Linked DNA regions of Homo sapiens. The protein of the gene in region 3 purifies or fractionates together with the protein of the main gene of each other region. This does not show direct contact. Each region holds a gene or a part of one and is shown on either strand. Other genes may lie near its edges.

Region 1 (7,323 bases), on a different chromosome or scaffold from region 3:
CCGCCGTTCTCTCCTGGGGTAGGGGGCTGCGGGCTCCTGCGGGCTCCTGAGCGGTTCCTCCTCGCAGGGACACCGGGTGGGGCGCTGTGGCTGGGGGTCCTGCGGCTGCTGCTCTTCAAGCTGCTGCTGTTTGACCTGCTCCTGACCTGCAGCTGCCTGTGCGACCCCGCGGGCCCGCTGCCTTCCCCCGCAACCACCACCCGCCTGCGAGCCCTCGGCTCCCATCGACTGCACCCGGCCACGGAGACTGGGGGACGAGAGGCCACCAGCTCACCCAGACCCCAGCCTCGGGACCGCCGCTGGGGTGACACCCCTCCGGGTCGGAAGCCCGGGAGCCCAGTATGGGGGGAAGGGTCTTACCTCAGCAGTTACCCCACTTGCCCAGCACAGGCCTGGTGCTCAAGATCTGCCCTCAGGGCTCCTTCCTCCAGTCTTGGAGCATTTTTTGCAGGTGACCTGCCTCCTCCTCTGCAGGCTGGAGCTGCCTGAGGGCAGGGCTCTACCTCCCCTGCGTCACACTGTGTGAGGCTGTGTCTCTGCCATCCAAAAGGGGGCCCCTTGAGAATGGTGATCCACCCAGTTACAGGGGCATTTAGGGAGCAGATGACTGAGAACATTAAAAAAGAACTTAAATGACACAGCAAATGAAAAATATTTGAATTCATGTCTATCCTGGGAGGAAGGAATTTGGCAGAGTTAGAAGTAGGAAAAATCCAGGAAAGCTCCCTTGAGGAAGAGGGCTTCCTGAGACAGAACTTGGGAACTGCAGAGTGGGACTGGTGGCTGGGAAGGCGGCTGTCTCCTCCCCCAACAGCAAGCGGGGAGGCCCCCTCTTCTCCTCACCCTGGCCCAACCTCTGTGAGAGGTCAGGGCAGAGAGCCCAGGAACCCAGGAAGGTGGGTGGTGGGTCTGATGTGAACTCTCGTACAGAGGTGAACAGGGCCAGGGTTTCTGGGGAACAGGATCGTTTTCAATAACAAGAGTATGAGATATTAATTCCAAACTTACAGTTTATTAATCAATTAAGAGTCATTATTCATTTGACAAATATTCTTTAAGTATCAACCCTGAGCCAGGTACTAAAGAGGTTTGGCTTTTTTGGTCTGGTTGTTACATAAAGAAGATTCTTGTATTGATCAAGTATGAGGCTTCCACAGTAGAGCATAACGTGTGCGTCCCCTGCTTGCCCAGCGCTGGCAGGAAATCCAGACTTTCCCAAGGGTTCTCTGCTAGTAATCACTCCAAGAGACTCTGGGTGCTGTCATGTAAATCCACCTGTCCCTTGGGCCCCATAGGATAGTCTGCTGGATCAACTTTAGTCTTCCTTCCCCCAGGGAGGGGATGGGGAACTATGCCCCAGCACCCCAACACATGGTTTCAAGGACACCCTCAGCTCCCCTGAGCCTCTGTGCTCTCTCAGCTACTGTTCCATAAAAACTCTCACTGCCTCCTCCACTGCTCATCTCTCACCAGCCTGAAAGGAGATTCTCCCACTTGTTTTGGGGATTCTTGGGTGCTGGTGGCTGGGGTGGGAGGGTCCCATAGCTTCTACGGATGAATCTGTCCACCATCCCCACAAGGCATGTTCCTTCTCTGACACACAGACTGAGGGAGGGTGTGGGCAGGGGCCCAACTATAGCCTCAGACTTTCTCTGGCCACTATCCCTTCCTAGCTGTCCGGCCAGATGCTGAGCCCAGGCTTCTCAATCTCCACTGTCAGGCTGGCTTAATCTTATTTCCCAGGAGGGCTTCTGAGCCGAGGTGAATCAAGGGCCATGGCCAAGCTCTGAGCCTACCCAAGTATTTTATTTTATTTTATTTTATATTTTATTTTATTATTTTATTTTTTGAGATAGGGTCTCACTCTGTCCCCCAGGGTGGAGTGCAGTGGTGCGATCTCAACTCTCTGCAATCTCTGTCTCCCAGGTTCCAGCAATTCTCCCACCTCAGCCTCTCAAGTAGCTGGGACTACAGGCACACGCCACCATGCCTGGCTCATTTTTGTATTTTTTGGTAGAGACAGGGTTTCACCACATTGGCCAGGCTGGTCTTGAACTTCTGACCTCAAGTGATCCGCCTGCCTTGGCCTCCCGAAGTGCTGGAATTATAAGTGTGAGCCACTGTGCCCAGCTTGAGCCAACCTAAGTCTTATCAAGCCTAGAAAACATGGAGGACCTTAGGAGGGTGTCCTGATCTTGTACACTGTGGAATTCCACATGCCACAGCCCCTGCCTATCCAAAGTGCTTTGTTACCAACACAGTTTTGGACAAGAAACTAAAGTCAGAAAGTGGCAAGGCCTGGGCCTCAGTGCTCTGAAGTCTTCATAAAATAGCATAAATATCCAACCTCTAGGAAGGAAACAAGAAGGTATCAGGGAACAGGGTTTTATGGCCAATTTGCAGACAACTTCCCAGAGAAGCAACTTTGGTCTGTGTGCGTCTGTAGGACACTGAGTTCAGGGGCAGCCTAAAGAAGACCAAGAGTGCTCCTCTTTATTTTTATTTGTTTATTTTTATTTTTTGAGACGGAGTCTCGCTCTGTCGCCAGGCTGGAGTGCAGTGGCGCGATCTCGGCTCACTGCAACCTCCACCTCCAGGGTTCAAGCAATTCTCCCGCCTCAGCCTCCCAAGTAGCTGGGACTACAGGCACCCACCACCACGGCTATTTTTTTTTGTATTTTTAGTAGAGACAGGGTTTCACCATATTGGCCAGGCTGGTCTCGAATTCCTGACCTTGTGATCTGCCCGCCTTGGCCTCCCAAAGTGCTGGAAATACAGGCATGAACCATCGCGCCCGGCATTTATTATTTTTGAGATGGAGTCTTGCCCTGTCGCCCAGGCTGGAGTGCAATGGCGTGATCTCGGCTCACTGCAACCTCCATCTCCCAGGTTCAAGCAATTCTCCTGCCTCCACCTCCCGAGTAGCTGGGATTACAGGCGTGTGCCACCACGCCCGGCTAACTTTTTGTATCTTTAGTAGAGATGGGGTTTCAGCATCTTGGCCAGGCTGGTCTTGAACTCCTGACCTCGTGATCCACCTACCTCGGCCTTCCAAAGTGCTGGAATTATAGGCGTGAGCCACCAAGCCCGGCCTCCTCTTTATTTTTTATTTTGATTTATTTATTTTTGAGATGGGGGGGGTGTCTCGCTATGTTGACCAGGCTGGTCTCGAACTCCTGGCCTCAAGCAGTTCTCCCTTCTTGGCCTCCCAAAGTGCTGGGATTACAGACATTAGCCACGGCGCCTGGCCTTTTTCTTCTTCTTCTTCTTTGTTGAGACAGGGTCTCAATCTGTTGCCCAGGCTGGTCTCCAACTCCTGGGCTCAGGTGATCCTTCCGCCTCGGCCTCCCAAAGTGCTGGGATTACAGGCGTGAGCCATTAAGTGTTCCCCTTAATGACACAGCAGATGAGAGTTTTACTGAGTATCTCCTTGTGCCAGGCACCCTGTTGTTGCTGGGGAAGCGGAAGGGAGAGACAATCGTTAATCGGCTAAATTTCTGCCTTCTGAGAGCTCAGAATCAAGAAATAAATAATAGGGCAGTAAAAGGGGCTGGGATTACATACAAAAAGAAAATTAATGCCTGAACTTTTTACAATCTGCTCGATAAGCTTTAATTCTATTAACCTATTTGAGCTTCCCAACAACAGGCAAGCTCCCACAGCAGCTAGGAGGATCACTTTGTCGTCATACAAATAGAAACAGGCTCAGAGAGGAAGTCATTTGTTCTAGTTCTCACTAGGACAAATCTACTGGCTACTAAAAAAGTGTGAAGGCTGGGGACAGTTTGAGTCGTCCTGCTTGCACCTTAAGCGCCTACAAGAGTGCCCGGCTATAACAACCACAATACCAATAATAAAATTTAAAAACAGATGTTCAGTAAGGACTTGCGGCATTAGGACCCCAGGAGGGAAGTGACGTTCGAGGAGGCGGAGAAAGCCGCGAAGACGGCCTTCCCCACATCTTCCAGCACCTGCGCGCCTGAATCCGTCCCACCCAGGCCCAGACGCAGGCTTCTTCTCGGGTCTTGGTCCTGCATCCTCTCTCTCCCAGAGCCTCCGTTAGGGGGTGGGAAAGGACTTTGCCATAGGTCGCTGAGGCCACCATCTGCTCTCTTACTGGCCAAGGGCGTAAAAAGATAGTCTTCCCATTAGCTAGAGAGCAAACCCCAGAAAGCCTATTGGCTGCGCCGTCCGCGGGCCTTGGTCCGCTTTGAAGGCGGGCTGCGGCTGCGAGAGGAGGGCGGGCGGGAGGCTAGCTGTTGTCGTGGTTGCTCGGAGGCACGTGTGCAGTCCCGGAAGCGGCGAGGGGAAACTGCTCCGCGCGCGCCGCGGGAGGAGGAACCGCCCGGTCCTTTAGGGTCCGGGCCCGGCCGGGCCATGGATTCAATGCCTGAGCCCGCGTCCCGCTGTCTTCTGCTTCTTCCCTTGCTGCTGCTGCTGCTGCTGCTGCTGCCGGCCCCGGAGCTGGGCCCGAGCCAGGCCGGAGCTGAGGAGAACGACTGGGTTCGCCTGCCCAGCAAATGCGAAGGTGAGGAGGCGGGGCCCGTGGGGCGTATCCTGCCGGAGGGGCTGGCTCCAGCGGTGGTGCTTGCGGAGCAGCGTCGGGGGTTGCAAGGTTCCGAGCTCTGCAGGGTGTCTTCCTTCCTTGAACAGGCTTGCGCCGGGACGCTGCGGCGGACGAGAGATCTGGTCCCGGTACCCCTGGAGTTCACACATTGGTAGAAACAAGCAATGATAATTCAGAGTAGTAGATGCCATGATAGGGGAGGTACAGAGCTTCCTTTTGGGGGCCGGACGAGGAGCATCTGGTCTAGCCTGGAGTGGGGGAGGGGGTGGGCGAAGGCTGTGTGCAGAGGGGAGTCAAAGAGGGCTTCATACAGGAAGCACGAAGAGGCATTAGGAGTTAGCCGGATGAAGAGAAGTGGAAAGAGAGGGGCCCACTCAGGAAACTACAGAGGCAGAGGCCTGCCGGCTGAGAAGCTAAGAACGAGTTTGAGGAACTGAAAAGCTCCAGATGACTCATCTTGGGGGAAAAAAACCTAAGACTTTCCCCTTTTGCCCTCACTGCAACCCAATCTGTGTAGTTGTCTGTTGCACCCACTAACAACTCCTCGAAGGCAGGAATTTTTGTCTTAGATACGTATTCACACAGTGTCTGGTAGGCACTCAATAAATGTTTTGAGAATACAGATGATTAAATGGGAGACTGTGGGTGTGTGTGAGGAGGAGGATCTGGATCTGAGGAGCCCTTTGGGGGAACAATAGAGCCTATGGGGAACTTGAAAGAAGATTTTAGGACTTTGGAGAAAAGGTGAGTCCCAAAGACATAGGCGTTGAGGAACTACAGAGAGAGAGAGAGAGGGAGCTACCAGCGAGCCAGGACTATAAAGGACCTATTTCTTTTTCCTCAACTCCGTCCCTTAGTTTTCTCCTCAGACCTTACAGTCATGCCTGCCTTCCTAGCCCCGTAACCCCAGGGCCCCCAGAAAGTTGGCTGTGAATCTCTCATCTGAATTGAAAGCCTACATCAGGCCAGATGTTCCCTAAACACTGGAAAGTGGGTTTGGGGTAAGTTTCGGACACATAATCCTTCCATTAGAGAGATTAAAAGGATGCTTTAGAGATAAGCCGACTTCACTGGTAGGGCACCCAGTATGAGTTCAAGCCTGTGCCTTCCCCCGTACATTCTTTTCTTTTTTTCCTTTTTTTTTTTTATGAGACTGTCTGGCTCTGTTGCCCAGGCTGGAGTGCAGTGGCGAGATCTCGGCTTATTGCAACCTCTGCCTCCTAGGTTCAAACGATTTTCCTGTCTCAGCCTCCTGAGTAGCTGGGATTACAGGCGCATGCCACCATGCCCAGCTAATTTTTGTGTTTTTAGTAGAGATGGGATTTCATCATATTGGTCAGGCTGGTCTTGAACTCCTGACCTCAAGTGATCCACCTGCCTTGGGCTCCCACAGTGCTGGGCTTATAGGCGTGAGCCTCTGCTCCTGGCCGCCCTTTCACTTTTCGCTCTTCCTCTAGTCCTGATAGCTTTTTTTTTTTTTTTTGAGATGGAGTTTCGCTCTTATTGCCCAGGCTGGAATGCAGTGGCGCGATCTTGGCTCACCGCAACCTCCAGTGACCCACCCTCCTCGGCCTTACAAAGTATTGGGATTACAGGCATGAGCCACCGTGCCTGGCCTTTTTTTTTTTTTTGAGACGGAGTCTTGCTCTGCCCAGTCTGGAGTGCAGTGGTGCGACCTTGACTCGCTGCAACCTCCGTCCCCCAGGTTCAAGGATTCTTCTACCTCAGCCTCCCGAGTAGGTGGGACTACAGGTGTGTGCCACCACTCCCGGCTATTTTTAGTAGAGACGGGTTTTCACCATGTTGGCCAGGCTGGTCTTGAACTCCTGAACTCGGGTGATCCACCCACCTTAGCCTCCCAAAGTGCTGGGATTACAGGCGTGAGCCACTGCACCCAGCCCAGCTAACTGATAGCCTTTCAGCGTTTCGCTTCCTCTTCTCTTTCTTTTCTGTCTTATTATTATTATTATTATTTTTTTTTGAGACGGAGTCTTGCTCTGTTGCCCAGGCTGGAGTGCAATGGCACAACCTCGGCTCACTGCAACCTCTGCCTCCAGGGTTCAAGTGATTCTCCTGCCTCAACCTCCTGAATAGCTGGGATTACAGGCACCTGCCATCATGCCCGGGTAATTTTTGTATTTTTGTAGAGACTGGGTTTCACCATGTTGGCCAGGTTGGTCTTGAACTCCTGACCTCAGGTGATCCTCCCACCTCAGCCTTCCAAATTGCTGGGATTACAGGCATGAGCCTCCGTGCCCAGCCTGTATTCTGTCTTATTCTGATATCAAAGAGCCCATACTCTCCCTCTTATTATTCTCATAGCCTAAGGAGCTCACATTTATTCTCCTTAGGCAACATTCACAGACTCACGGAAGCATAGAGATGCCCAGGATCTCTATATCTCTATATCTAGAGATCATTCTAGTCTACCCTCATTTGGTAACTGATGAAGATTAATTGAAAAGGGATTTGCAGTCACAGGATGGCTTGGCAAACTCCAACCGTTAGGTTCATCTTAATAGTATATTTGTTTGTATTATTATTACACCTTTGTTATTAAATGCTGACTGTGTCTAGCCCACCAAGCCTGCCTCCTGGCTCAGTAGCCTGAGTGGAACAGGCCTCGGCACAGAGGAAGGAGAACCTGCCCGGAAAAAAAGAGTGGGTGGATGTCAGTGAGGGTCTGGTGTCTGTGCCGTGAATCTCCTGTGAGTCTGGTTCTGGGTGGGATCCGCAGAGGAGGTCTTGAAGAGGTA
Region 2 (4,650 bases), on a different chromosome or scaffold from region 3:
GGTGCTAAGCAGTCCCTCTTCCCTTTCTCTTAGTGCCACACCATCATCCACATTCACTTCGGGTCTCTCCTGAATCAAGCTGTGCTTATGTTTTATAGAGGAAATGTGAAATCAAAGTTGTTTTGCTTCATCTCCTGCAGGGTAACTCCGTCAGATGCATTGCTTTGACTGCATGCTGTCCTACGTTTAGAAGCGCTGTGGTCTAAACCCTGTCGTGAGTCAAGGTGTGGCACGCACGGGGCAGGTGGCGATTACGGCCCAAGAAGGCCCAGTGCTGGGTCGATACACTCAACACTGTGATCATCTTTTGTTGGTGGGTATTTGCAGAATGCATTGAACAAATTAAAGGAGGGTAAGAAATGGCTTATCTGGTGACAATGGAGAGTGGTATTGTTTTCCACATCATCATATTCTTAAACAACTCCCAGCGATCTAAAATGCTGATGAAGGAAGGATAGAGTTTTATTTATTTTCACCAAATAGCTGGACATATTAAAAACTTAAGGTAGACTGGAAATAAAATACAACTCCAACATGTTTTAAATCAGATTTGATTTTTTTAATTCAAATTGACCCAAAGCAAAACTTACATTAAAAAGGAAGAACAAAATACATTATGATATAACACACTAGGAGTTACATGAAAGCTAAATTTGTGGGCAAATGGCCTTATCCCAATCACATTCTGGGCTCATGAGCACTCCTGCAGGAAAGTTAGAATCTCAATTTCGTATGGTCCACGCCGGTCATTAAACTACACATTCTTGTCTCTTGGGGTGTGCATCTGACGAGTCATGCTAGAGTCCCTCATGCTCCAGATGTGTACTCTTGCTACTGCCAGAACGCTGGATTCTCTAGTGGAAATGCTGTTCCAAGCATGACTGACAATGAATTAAAAAATGAGACAGTCAAGTCCTCCAAACTAACAGGCATGGATTACTGTGTAGTAAATAGTTTAGAAATATGGGAATTAAATAATCTAAAAAACACTCTTACTCTGCTGTACATTTATAAACACAAATATTTACAAAAAAAAAAAAACACAAAACCTTGTTTTCGAAAGATGAGGTTTGCAGTTCATTAATGATCATAATCTTTTGTAAGCTGGTTTCTTTGGTGTATTTGCCAAATATATTTTTATAAAGGTTTAGTAATAGGCTTAAATAATAAATTTCAAAGGAAACATAAAAGAATCTGACAAATTTGAAAATATTCTGAACATTTTCTGTTCTGTTTCTGGAAAAAACAATCGGTTGATTTTTCTGAAAATATCTGTTCTCCCTATTCATTATGTGACCATGGAATGCTTCTCTGTGAATCCAATTCAAATGCAGACCTGCAGGTGTCACCACTATCATCTACCAGTAACCCACCTGGAGACATTTTAGTTATTGTGAAATGTGATTGGGATTTTATTAACAACAAAAATAAAACATTCTTTTTAAGCTTCCAGATAAATCAAACCTCAAACAATAAATAATGGAATTATACACTTCTTCATTAAATAGAAATTTCAAAATTCCAGGAAGAGCTCTCATAATTTTTTTTTTCTGAAGTCACAGCAGCAATACAGAACAAAGAATTTACCTTAATCTGATCTTTTTACGTGGAATTCCCTGACTCAAACTCAGTGGCTTAGTTTGGAAACCTCTGAATGGCTGGGGAGAGAAAATCTTTTGAAACTAAGTGAATAAATTAACACACACATACGTGGAAATCAGCCCTTGTGCAAGTGTAACATGAACATCACTGATGAGAGTGCAGAAACTCCAGGCACCCCTCTGCCTCCTCCTATCCCTGGGCCTGGGGTTGTAGGGAGAAGTCACACTCAATTCATTTCTAGCCACACCATGTCCCTAACAGTGCTAGTGTGAACTAGCCCTGACCTGGGTATTGGTTTAAAGAATGAGAATACAGCTTGGCAACTGTCTTCATAAGGGACTCTCTCTGGAGATAACTTTTTGGAACATTTTTATGGGGAAGAGGACAGACTACCCGTTCCTATCCATCAGGCTCCAGCTAGTTTGGGGATGGTTATAGAACTGGCCACACTCAGAGTGGCTGCCTGCGAAAGAGTCTATGCCAAAGAGTCTATGGGCCACACCAGCAATCTCCCGAATAATCCTCTTCTCTGAAGCTGCCCGTCTTCGGAAACCTGTGCAATGCTTAGGCACAAGCAGATCAGAGTCTAAGAGCAAACGCTGTGCTTGAGAAAACAGCACTGCTGGCTCTGAAAAAGGTGAAGCCAGAGAAAACTCCTAGTTCTGCTTAGTTACACTTCTGGGTGAAACAGTTTTACACTTCATGACTTAAATCTAGAAATTCAGACGAGAGAAGCCCTTCGTCTTGTAAACTTCTGATAACAAATTTATTAACAGTGTGTTAAATATTTTTTCCCAAAGCACTAAGAACGATACTGGGACATTTGAAAAGGTTCTTCTGAAGTTAATAACACAAATCAAGCCAGAATACGTTTCTGAGGGCATCCTCTTAGATGCCTAATGCCTCTGGGACCTTTTCCATTGTTACTGACACTTTATCATATCCGTGTTTACACGGCAAACATATGCCCAATCAACCCAGAAAATAATTGTCCTGAAGAGCCTCACTGTATATAACCTTAAAATGGGAAATGTTTAATTAGCATATTAGAAATTAGCCAGACTTATAAATGTGTACCCCTTAAAGATTTTACGCTTAAAAAGTTTTTTTTTTAAACTGGGAAGAAAAGAAACACCATGAAGCCACCCCAAATTATTGAACCATTAAAGCCAAATGATTTAACAATTTTTAAGGGAAGACTCGACCACCAGGGTACAAAATTTTCTGCTTAAAGTGAAGTCAAAGACATAGCTTCAGATGGAAATTGCAACTGACATACGATGGCTCTGCAGTGACAACTGAAGCGGCGGCTCCTGTCCTCACGGGCATGTCAAAGCTGGCTGTGAAATGACGACCAGCAAGTGAAATAATGGATAAAATACACCAGAAGGAGTATTGCACTGCAGGCACAGTTTTAAAAACAGAATACACTGGCTTCACAAAGTTATTTTCTTTCCCGTTAATTTTTTTAAAAGTACAACTCTAACTAGAGATAGAAATCGAGATGCAGTGTCTCAGGGTAGTGTACTACAGTTGTTAAAAAAAAAATAAGTTAAAAACAAGAGCACAGCAAAAGAAAAGCAGAGGTACTGGATTTATGTCATAAGCAGAGATACTGGATTTATGTCATCCGAAAGCTACATTAATTAGGAAAAAGAACAGTTTGAAACGGCCAGTTTGTACTCATTAAAAATGAATGAGGTGACAGCGTTACTTCAAACATTTCTTAGGGCATTTTCCAAAAGAACCCAGGGTCGCCCTGGGTGAAACTGTGCCTCCAAACGTTAACAAGTGCTCTGCTGGTTTAGAATACCGTGCTTACCAAGGAACCATAAATTTGGAAAGGGTAAATTCTCCACTCTAAACCTGCTTGTGTCATTTAAGAAAAGACAATTTTTCTAAATGCAGTATTGTATACAAAGCTTGGACCTCTTAAACTTGGACCAAGAAACCAAATTAAGACCTTCAAGCATGTGGTGTGTGTTTTTATATATATATAAAAAATCCCTCCCCTACAATGAAAACCAACCAAACAAACAGAAAACCCAAAAGTGTATACCTGCTTTCTGATTTCACAGCAAATCAGAAATTGCATAGGATATACTTTGTGCAAGGCAAAAAGCCTTTTAAGTATCTAGAATAGAACTCCTAATCTTGCTCACAGTTCTGGCATATCAGATATCATCAAATTTGTGTTTTAAGTAGTCTTTCATGACCTTGGCAATTGGTAGTTCATCAAGTAGCTTTAGGTTTTGAAGGCCTATACATTGTCGAATTTTAATTCGGCACAGGTCCTGCAAGTTTCTGGGCTGTCCTAAAAAGACAGAAAAAAGAAAATGTTACAAAGCCACAAAGCACAATATTTAAGGCACTTTTGAAAAGAACTGTTCATTTCCCTGGAAGTTCTCTCTATGGACTTGACATGCAAAGGACCGGAAAGATACCAACTCAAAGTGTCCTAGGACCTTCATGCGATGCCTTATTTGATCCTTTTCACAACCGTGGGATGGTGGATATTTTCAACTCCATTTTACCAATAAGAAAACTGAGTATCAGATGTAAACAAGTTGCTTAATATCAGACAACCAATTAAGGCTTTCAACTGAGACCAAAAACAGTTTTGATTCTAAGCCTCATATCCTTTCTGTTATAAATCAGGAAAATTCTGGTTCTCGTCCTGACTAGGTCTCTCTCACGCTGGGTGAGCCACTGTGAGCCAATCATTCCTCTGAGCCTTGGCTTCTCAATCTGAAAAGTGTGGGGACTGAAAGAGATGTCCCCTATTGTGAGCCTCCCTTTCAGCTCTGGGTCTAGGACACTGGAGCCCGGACACCCACCACGGTCTCTGTGGAGCTTTCCAAACAAGCTTTCCAGATCTGCTCACCTGTTTTCCGTGATTCTGAACACAGCAGAACCTTGGTTGTAAGGCTGACAGTTGAGGAGTGCAGCAGAAGGGGGTGTGAAAAAGCGCCTCAAGGTATTCTGAATCTACATCGCTTCAAGCTTCCACACCCTGATCACTTGCCAATAAAAACCCGTTATATCTCA
Region 3 (7,667 bases):
TCTACCATTTTGAGTAAGACTAGAGCTCCAGCCATGTCACAAGTATAAACTACCAATTAAGGTCTTTAGGTCTCTTCTTGGGGTGACCCTTTAATTACCTATATCCCTCCATTAAGCCCTGGCTCTTGGATCCCTTTTATTCCAGCTTACCTTACCTACCCTGCTTGGGCCACTGGGGTAGGCCATTAATTCTGGGGAAATTGGAGTAGATACAATTTAGATCCTGTCTTTCCTGTTCTTGGAGAGTACGTTTTCTGCCATTAGATTACAGTGTATTATGTGGTGTCCTATTCTTTCTGTCCTTTGTAAGCATGTTCCATTTTAGTCTCGGTCTTGACTCCTGACTCTGCCCTTCACCTTCATTCTCCCATCTGTGTGGTGGTTGAACTTCCTCCCTCTACTCTGTGTTTGCACATCAAGTCCTGTTGAATTCTACTCCACTCCACAAATATCTTAGACCCTGCATTTATATTAAGATAGAGAAACTTCTAAAGCCCTGTAAAGAGAAGAAGCAGAGAGAAAAATAATCTCTAAACTCTTTAGGGATCAGGGAATCTTAATAGATTCAAATCATCCAAGTGAGCCAATAGCCTATGTTATGATGGGACTTTTTTTTCTTTAACTTGAAGCTATAATTAGTAATACCTATCCTTTGTGTCTTAGTGATGGGCAAAAATAATGCTATCATATTAAAAGCATTAACTGAAAGAAAGAAACTGTGGTGTTAACATTTGCTCATTGTGTACCCCTGCAAAAAAGAAAAGAGAAAGTAGCAATTATAACTGGTCAATCTTATAAGTCTTTATCCTCCAATTTATAGTGGAGAAGAACTTCTGAAACAATCAGTATTGTTATATATTTGGCTGAATTTCTCATTTTCCAGTGTGTATGTGTATGTGTCATACATAGTGGGCAACAGATACTTAAGTGCTGTATTAACTTTTTCCTTACCCAGCATTCATTTCTGTGTGCCAAGAAAACCACAAGTAATTAGTTTGCCCATAAAGGTGGGGAATGAATGATGTGGTATAACGTCACCCTTGCAGTGTTAACTCAAAGACAGTTACAGTTACTTGGTACCAATTGATAGAGGGTCTAAACTGTTAAAATTGATTTAAAAAGAAAGTCCTATATTGACTAGGTTTTCAGTTTTTGGTACTGTATGTAGATGGCATATATAAATTATTGTGGAATGCTATTGATATCAAAATAACCAGTACTCTTCTATGTATTTTCTTCAAATTGTTTTCTATAATAATAACCTTAAGCTGATAATTCATCTTTATTTCTCCAAATACACATTTCCGCTAATTTATTTTTGAGGCAACACAACATTGCAAGTATAGGGCATTGTGTAACATTACTTAATATATAAATTGCAACTGGTGAGGGATCATCTTAAAGTCTAGTTTTCTTTAAGTTTTATTTTTTGGTTACTATAGATACTGTTTGGTTACCATAGATACCATTTATTAATTTGGAAAGCATACATACTCTAAAAATACAATCTTAGGGACAATTATTATGAATTCGTTTGAATCATTTAAAGTGATTTTCCCTTCCCCTTACCTTATCAGACACATTCAGGAAAAGCAAAAACATGCATTTAAATGGGCAGTATTTTAGAAGCTAAATTTAGAATAGAAATAAAGTACCTTAATATTTTTTCCATCCAGGTATTTATCCTCATAATCTTGGCTAAATATGGATTCTTCAAAATTATCTGTTCCATAATCATAGATAATGCGTGAGTCCTGCTGGGTTGGTGGTGCTGGCTTTATCAGAGGCACAAGCAGTAACAGGAGAAGTGTAGACTGCAGAGTCTTCATTTTAGCAAAAATCAAGGTGACTGGAAGTTAATAAACTAGTGGCCTGCTGACTGTGGGACAAAACTCTCTTTTTCCCTGGAAATAAAAATTCAGACCATCGAAGCAATATTTAAAAGCTTAGAGGATGTTTTGGCAGGGTGTGCGCAGTAAGGGCCAGAGAACAGTATTTAACCCTTAGTGATCTTTAATTAGATGCTAGCAGTTTTTATGTATCAGTGAACATTCTGAAAAATAGTTTTGGAAAATAGTTTTACTTCTCTATCAGAAATTCAAGAAAGATTGATAATTTTAAGTTTCTTAATAATTAAGTGCCTTCAGCAGACATACTAATATTTAATTGAAATATTCTTAGGATACCTGTAGTATAAATAGTTAAAATAAAGTCCCAAGATCCTGTCTCATGTGAGTTAAAAATATCATATTTCCACTTAGCTACTTTATAAGAACTCTTGATTTATATTGGTATGAACAGAAACAAGTTCCAAGAAAAGTTTTAAAACTTAAATTTAACATTATGAAAAGTAGTCATTAACACCTTTAGGTGGTACAGAATATAGGAAAAGCCATACGTTTTTAATTTTCTTAGTTTTGTAATTTTAATAGGTGATCATAATTTTTAGTTAATAGTATTGTATTTTTAATTTAAGCTAAGAAAACTGAAAGAATAGTATTGCAGGCTAGAGGAAATACCGAACTTTAATCAAAGAACTTTGAGGAATGTAATAGAAAGGATTCCTTTAGGCTCATCAATGGATTTTCTCTGGTGGGTACACATTTCAGACTTTTTCTTAAGTAACTTCAAACAGAATCACTCAAGAGTTGCTGATGCTGCATTATAGATGCCAGTTTGTCAAAAATCCAGAGGTTGAAAATGAAGAAGATAATGGATTTGTGACTTCTGCAGCACCCTATTCTTGCCTGCGTGGATGTTAAATTTATGCGATGATATACATAAGTACTTCTTAAAAATTAATTGAGGTAACTGAAACTTAAACCAGAGATGGCCTTTACATTTATTAAGACTATTAGATGAGTCAGTCGCACTTTAACAAACAATATTTAAAATAATATATGAAAAGTAAGCCTACCGTTGTAGCTGTTTTGAAGTTTTTTGTGGTTTTCCTCAATAGATGTTCATGTCTGTGCATTAGCCCCAAGTGGGAGGGTGAATGAGAAAAGCTATGTCTTGATTTCAAACTGCTGAGTAAAATTTCAGGGCCCAGCAGCTTTAAGAACAGTTTCCATGTGGTAGAGATCTTTGCCAGCATTCTTTCTCTAGGGTGAAATGCAGTGTGTTGTACTAGAGAACTGTGCTTAAGTTATTTGTTGTAACTGCTGCACTCAGTCTGCTTCAACTAATTTGACTATAAACTTGTGTGATTTTATTATTGTGTAATAAACATTCATGTTTTGGTGAATATTAGTTTATGAAAAATGATATAGTTTTAAAGTCATCCTTTTCATTTTGGTGATTTCCCAGGAGATCAAACAATCTGCTTTTTGAATGAAATAGGACACCAAATGACAACATAGTCCATGTTGTTAATTTTATGAGGATTAAAAATATTGCCCTAATACCATAATTAATATATAGCCAGTGTAATATATTTTTCCAGTGTAAAAATTAGTTTTAGCACAAATTATTTGATAGTTTTGTCATTTGGATTTTTTCTCCCCTTTATTTTAGTTACATATAAGAAAAACTGATGCATAAAAATTAGCTTTTTAAAAGTAAATTTGATTTATAGTTTTTGAGGTTGATAGTAAAAGATACTTTTGTTTGCTGAATGAAGGAAACTTTATAAAATTACTTTAATATTGAAATTGGCTTTTAAAAATTAAAGTGGCATTGTAGATACCATACAAGCAACTTTGAAGATTTTTTTAAAGAGTCACTTTTAAAAAATTCCTCCTTGGTGCTTTTACCAATCAAATTAACTTTTCTCCTTTAAGCTAAAAATTTAACAAATATGGATATATATTTTATTAAAATAGAAAATGAAAGAATAACAATTTGTTTTCTTTTCTAGACAAAATTGTTTTAGAACCTTTCAAATCAAAGCTTAAATAAACTAAGACTTGAGCACTGAAGTTTTTATTTGAATGTGAATTATCTTAAATTTAATTGTGATATTGTCTGGCTTGAGTTGATATAAATTGTTGGTTTTATGGCTTCAAGGATACAGTAAAACTTTTTTAAATACTTTGAAATATATAATAATGAAACAACAGACATTGATTTGTTTTGTATTGTGTGGCAAGTTAACAAGATATTGAGAAGTAAGCTGGATAGATACCATATGTCCAAATTTAGAGAATCTTAGAGATTCATAGTTTCATTAATGGTACACTTTGATGCTTTGTACTACAGAAAATTATTTTGTGAAGAACAACTTTCCTTGAAAAGTTATGACCAGTGAATACAATGTTATTAGCATTCACTCATTTAATAAAAGTTTATTGAGCGCCAATTCTGTGCCAGGACTTCAGACACGTAAGCTCAGATAAGCAAACTTCAGTTTCTTCCCTCAAGGAAGATTTATAGCCTCTAAGTCAGCAGGAAAAGCAGCAAACAAGCAACTAGAATCCATGGTAGGGCTTGCTACACAGAAATATGCAGAGTTCTGTGATAACCTGGGAGAAGCCACAAACTGACTGGGAGTCAAGGAGACTGCACCCAAACTGACTTCTATAGAGAGGATAGGAGAGGAGGGTAAGCGCAGGTGATGAGGTATTCTAGGCAAGGGGATCATCACGTGCTCCCCTTAGGGAGGGGATGGGGGTAGATCATTCAGAAAATTTATAATTTGTTTTGCATACTGCTGGAGCTTGGAGGGAGAGAGAGAAGAAGTCAGGGGGATGGACCATATTAAGAGATGCGACTAGACAGGGGGAATAGAGGTTGGATTAAAGAAAGTATTTTATATCCTGCTAAAGTATTTGGGCTTTAGTCTGTAGTCAGTGAGAGACCATGTAGAGATTTTTAAGCCAGTGATGGCTTAAATATGATCCTGTTTGCATTTTAGAAACATTCCTCTAATGTTGCATTGCTGAAGAATACCACTGTTCATCTATTGTAGTGGTTATCTATTACTGTGTAAAAAACTACCACAAAGGAATGGCTTAGTTAAAATAACACACATTTATTATCTCACAGTTTCTGTGGGTCAGGAATTTGGCGTGTCTTTGCTTGATGGTCTGCTTCAGGATCTGCATTTGAAGTGCATCTGGCACTGCAGCCTCACTTCAGGGGTTGAGTAGGGAATGATCCAGTTCTAAGCCCATGTGGTTGTTGACAGCATTCAGTTCCTTGCAGAATGTGAAACTGTGGACGTAAGTTTCTTGCTAGCTGTTGACTGACGGCCTCCCTCAGTTCCTTGCCATGTGACTTCCTCAAAAGGGCAGCTCACAACATTGCAGCCTGCTTCTTCACAGCTAGAGGAGGAAATAGTCTTCTGGCAAGATGGGTATTACCCGCACTTCTGATACCAACAGCAATTTCAGGAGATTCCTAGAACCACTCTTATTACATTTGATAATTCCCTAGAAGAACTCTCAGAACTCACTGAAGACCATTATACTCATGATTATGGTTTATATAGAAAAAGGATACACCCTAAAATCAGCCAAAGGGGGAGATGCGTAGGGGCAGTGTCTAGAAGGCTCCAGACTTGAAACTTCCATTGTTCTCTGGATGCATTGCCTTACGTTGATATGTGGCAGTGTATGTGGGGTATTGCCAACCAGGCAAGCTTATTCTCAGTGTTCAGAGTTTTTATTGGGGCTTTATTAATAGGTTTGATTGATTGATTGATTGAATTCAGCCTCCTGGTCCACTGATACTACATAACCCAAATCCCTTATCCTACATCACGTGGTTGGTCTTCCTGGCATAGCCACCTCTACCTCAAGACTATCAGGTGTGGCTGATCTCACCCTAAACAAAAACACTCCTATCAGAAATAACATAGATCACCTCTCAGAAGCCAAGGCAAAGCCCAGACCTCTCTTTAGGCAAAGCCAAAATCTTTACTACACAGTACTCAATATAAAATGCTTGAAACTGAGGTGATTTTCTATTCCAGAAAGAATTGAATGCTGATAGAAAGCTATTTAGCTTTTACTCTACAGGAGTAAAAGATGAAAGCTGTCTCATGCTCAAGAGCAGGCATTGTATCCAAAGATGAAAGAGTCTTCTTTGTGGAATTCTTTTTATGAAGGCAAGGTCTTGCTCTGTCACCCAAGCTGGAGTGCAGTGGCACGATCATGACTCTCTGCAGCCTCAACTTTGTGGGCCCAAATGATCCTCCCACTTCAACCTTCTGAGTAGCTGGGACTACAGGCATGCACCACCATGCCTGGCTAATTAAAAAAATTAAAAGAATTGTAGAGACGGGGTCCTCTTATGTTACCCAGGCTGGTCTCGAACTTTTGACCTAAAGTGATCCACCTTGGCCTCTGTGGAGTTCTTTTAGGTGACCCTATTGTATTATCTTTGGTGCCTTATAGGGGTTTTATTTCCTCAAAAGTGTACCATTTGTCTGTTGGCAACCAAAAAAATGTGTTGAATGGAATGGAATTTTGGAAACAAGAGCTTCCAGGGAAAAAGTATTTTTGGGGAGTGGCTTAATTCTGATAGAGACCATATGACCTCCAAGTGGATTAGCTTTCAATGAATGCTACAAACCAGAAGAGTCTTTCCCCCATCTTCATCTTCATTCTCTAACTTTGTAGGAAATAGTTTGGTTTAGGAGTCAAAACACCTGAGTTCTAGTTTTTGTTTGTTTGTTTGTTTTTGAGACGGAGTCTTGCTCTGTCTCCAGGCTGGAGTGCAGTGGTGCGATCTCAGCTCACTGCAACCTCCGCCTCCCGGGTTTAAGCAATTCTTCTGCCTCAGCCTCCTGAGTAGCTGGGACTACAGGCATGCGCCACCACGCCCAGCTAATTTTTATGTTGTCAGTAGAGACAGGGTTTCACCATGTTAGCCAGGATGGTCTCGATCTCTTGATCTCGTGATTTGCCCGCCTCGGCCTCCCAAAGTACTGGGATTACAGGTGTGAGCCATTGCACCCAGCTGAGTTCTAGTTTTGATTCTTCATGAACCTTCCCCTGACCTTGGCAAGTTCTTTAACGTTTTGGGCCACAGTTTTTTTATCGATTGAACTTTTATCGATTGAATCGGGTTACTACAGAGTTCCTCAGCCTCTGCACTACTGACATTTTGGACCTGATAATTCTCTGTTGTGGGGGCTGTCCTGTGTGCACTTTAGGATGTTTAGCAGCACCTCTGCCTTCTACCCACTAGATGCTAGTAGTTGCACCCCACCCCCACCCCTACTTTGTGATGACCAAAAATGTCTCCAGACATTGCCAGCTGTCCACTGATGGGTGGGGGTTGGGGAAGCAAAATCATTCGTATTGATAACTGCTGAGTTACTAGATACACATAGACCCTTTTTAATCCAGCATTCTGGATTTTGTGGAAAGTCTGTGGTTTGGATCTCCGTCTTAAATCTCATACTTATGCTTGAAGCCTAATTGTTTGTTCAAACAAGAAATATGAGAACCCATGTATTTTACTTCCCAGACTAAAGGGTAAAATTTATATGGAGAGAATTATGACTCAATGTAAGGAAGAGCTCATGGTAAAATTGTATTTTATTTGTTAATTTAGTTTTTCTCAGTAGTACATAAATCTCTGTATAGTGAATTCATAACCTAAACAAGTAAAGTGATGCAAGATGTGTCCATGATGTTATGATATTTACACCTAGGCAGATTTATAACTTGGAATAGTTATATCAATTTAGGAAATTGGAACATATAAGAAACTTCAGA

What was found. Proteins that work in one complex are often made in the same cells at the same time.
Region 1: the proteins of OGN (region 3) and CNPY3 purify together in Homo sapiens (affinity purification with mass spectrometry; 3 studies listed by BioGRID and IntAct, with this or other methods). This does not show direct contact.
Region 2: the proteins of OGN (region 3) and ASB7 purify together in Homo sapiens (affinity purification with mass spectrometry; 3 studies listed by BioGRID and IntAct, with this or other methods). This does not show direct contact.

Annotation. Positions count from the first base shown.
Region 1 is NC_000006.12:42,925,194-42,932,516, forward strand, and holds the start of CNPY3 (protein canopy homolog 3 isoform 1 precursor), read left to right. Parts: upstream 1-4,286; 5' UTR 4,287-4,377; coding exon 4,378-4,528; intron 4,529-4,653; exon of another isoform or gene 4,654-4,718; intron 4,719-7,323. Other genes in the region: PTCRA (pre T-cell antigen receptor alpha isoform 1 precursor), read left to right, coding at 23-489; CNPY3-GNMT (Glycine N-methyltransferase-like isoform 1 precursor), read left to right, coding at 4,378-4,528. UniProt on the Homo sapiens protein: Toll-like receptor (TLR)-specific co-chaperone for HSP90B1. Required for proper TLR folding, except that of TLR3, and hence controls TLR exit from the endoplasmic reticulum. Consequently, required for both innate and adaptive immune responses.
Region 2 is NC_000015.10:100,647,589-100,652,238, reverse strand, and holds the end of ASB7 (ankyrin repeat and SOCS box protein 7), read right to left. Parts: intron 3,917-4,650; coding exon 3,777-3,916; 3' UTR 538-3,776; downstream 1-537. UniProt on the Homo sapiens protein: Probable substrate-recognition component of a SCF-like ECS (Elongin-Cullin-SOCS-box protein) E3 ubiquitin-protein ligase complex which mediates the ubiquitination and subsequent proteasomal degradation of target proteins.
Region 3 is NC_000009.12:92,401,579-92,409,245, forward strand, and holds the start of OGN (mimecan isoform 2 precursor), read right to left. Parts: upstream 2,918-7,667; intron 2,187-2,917; exon of another isoform or gene 1,905-2,186; 5' UTR 1,830-1,904; coding exon 1,656-1,829; intron 1-1,655. UniProt on the Homo sapiens protein: Induces bone formation in conjunction with TGF-beta-1 or TGF-beta-2.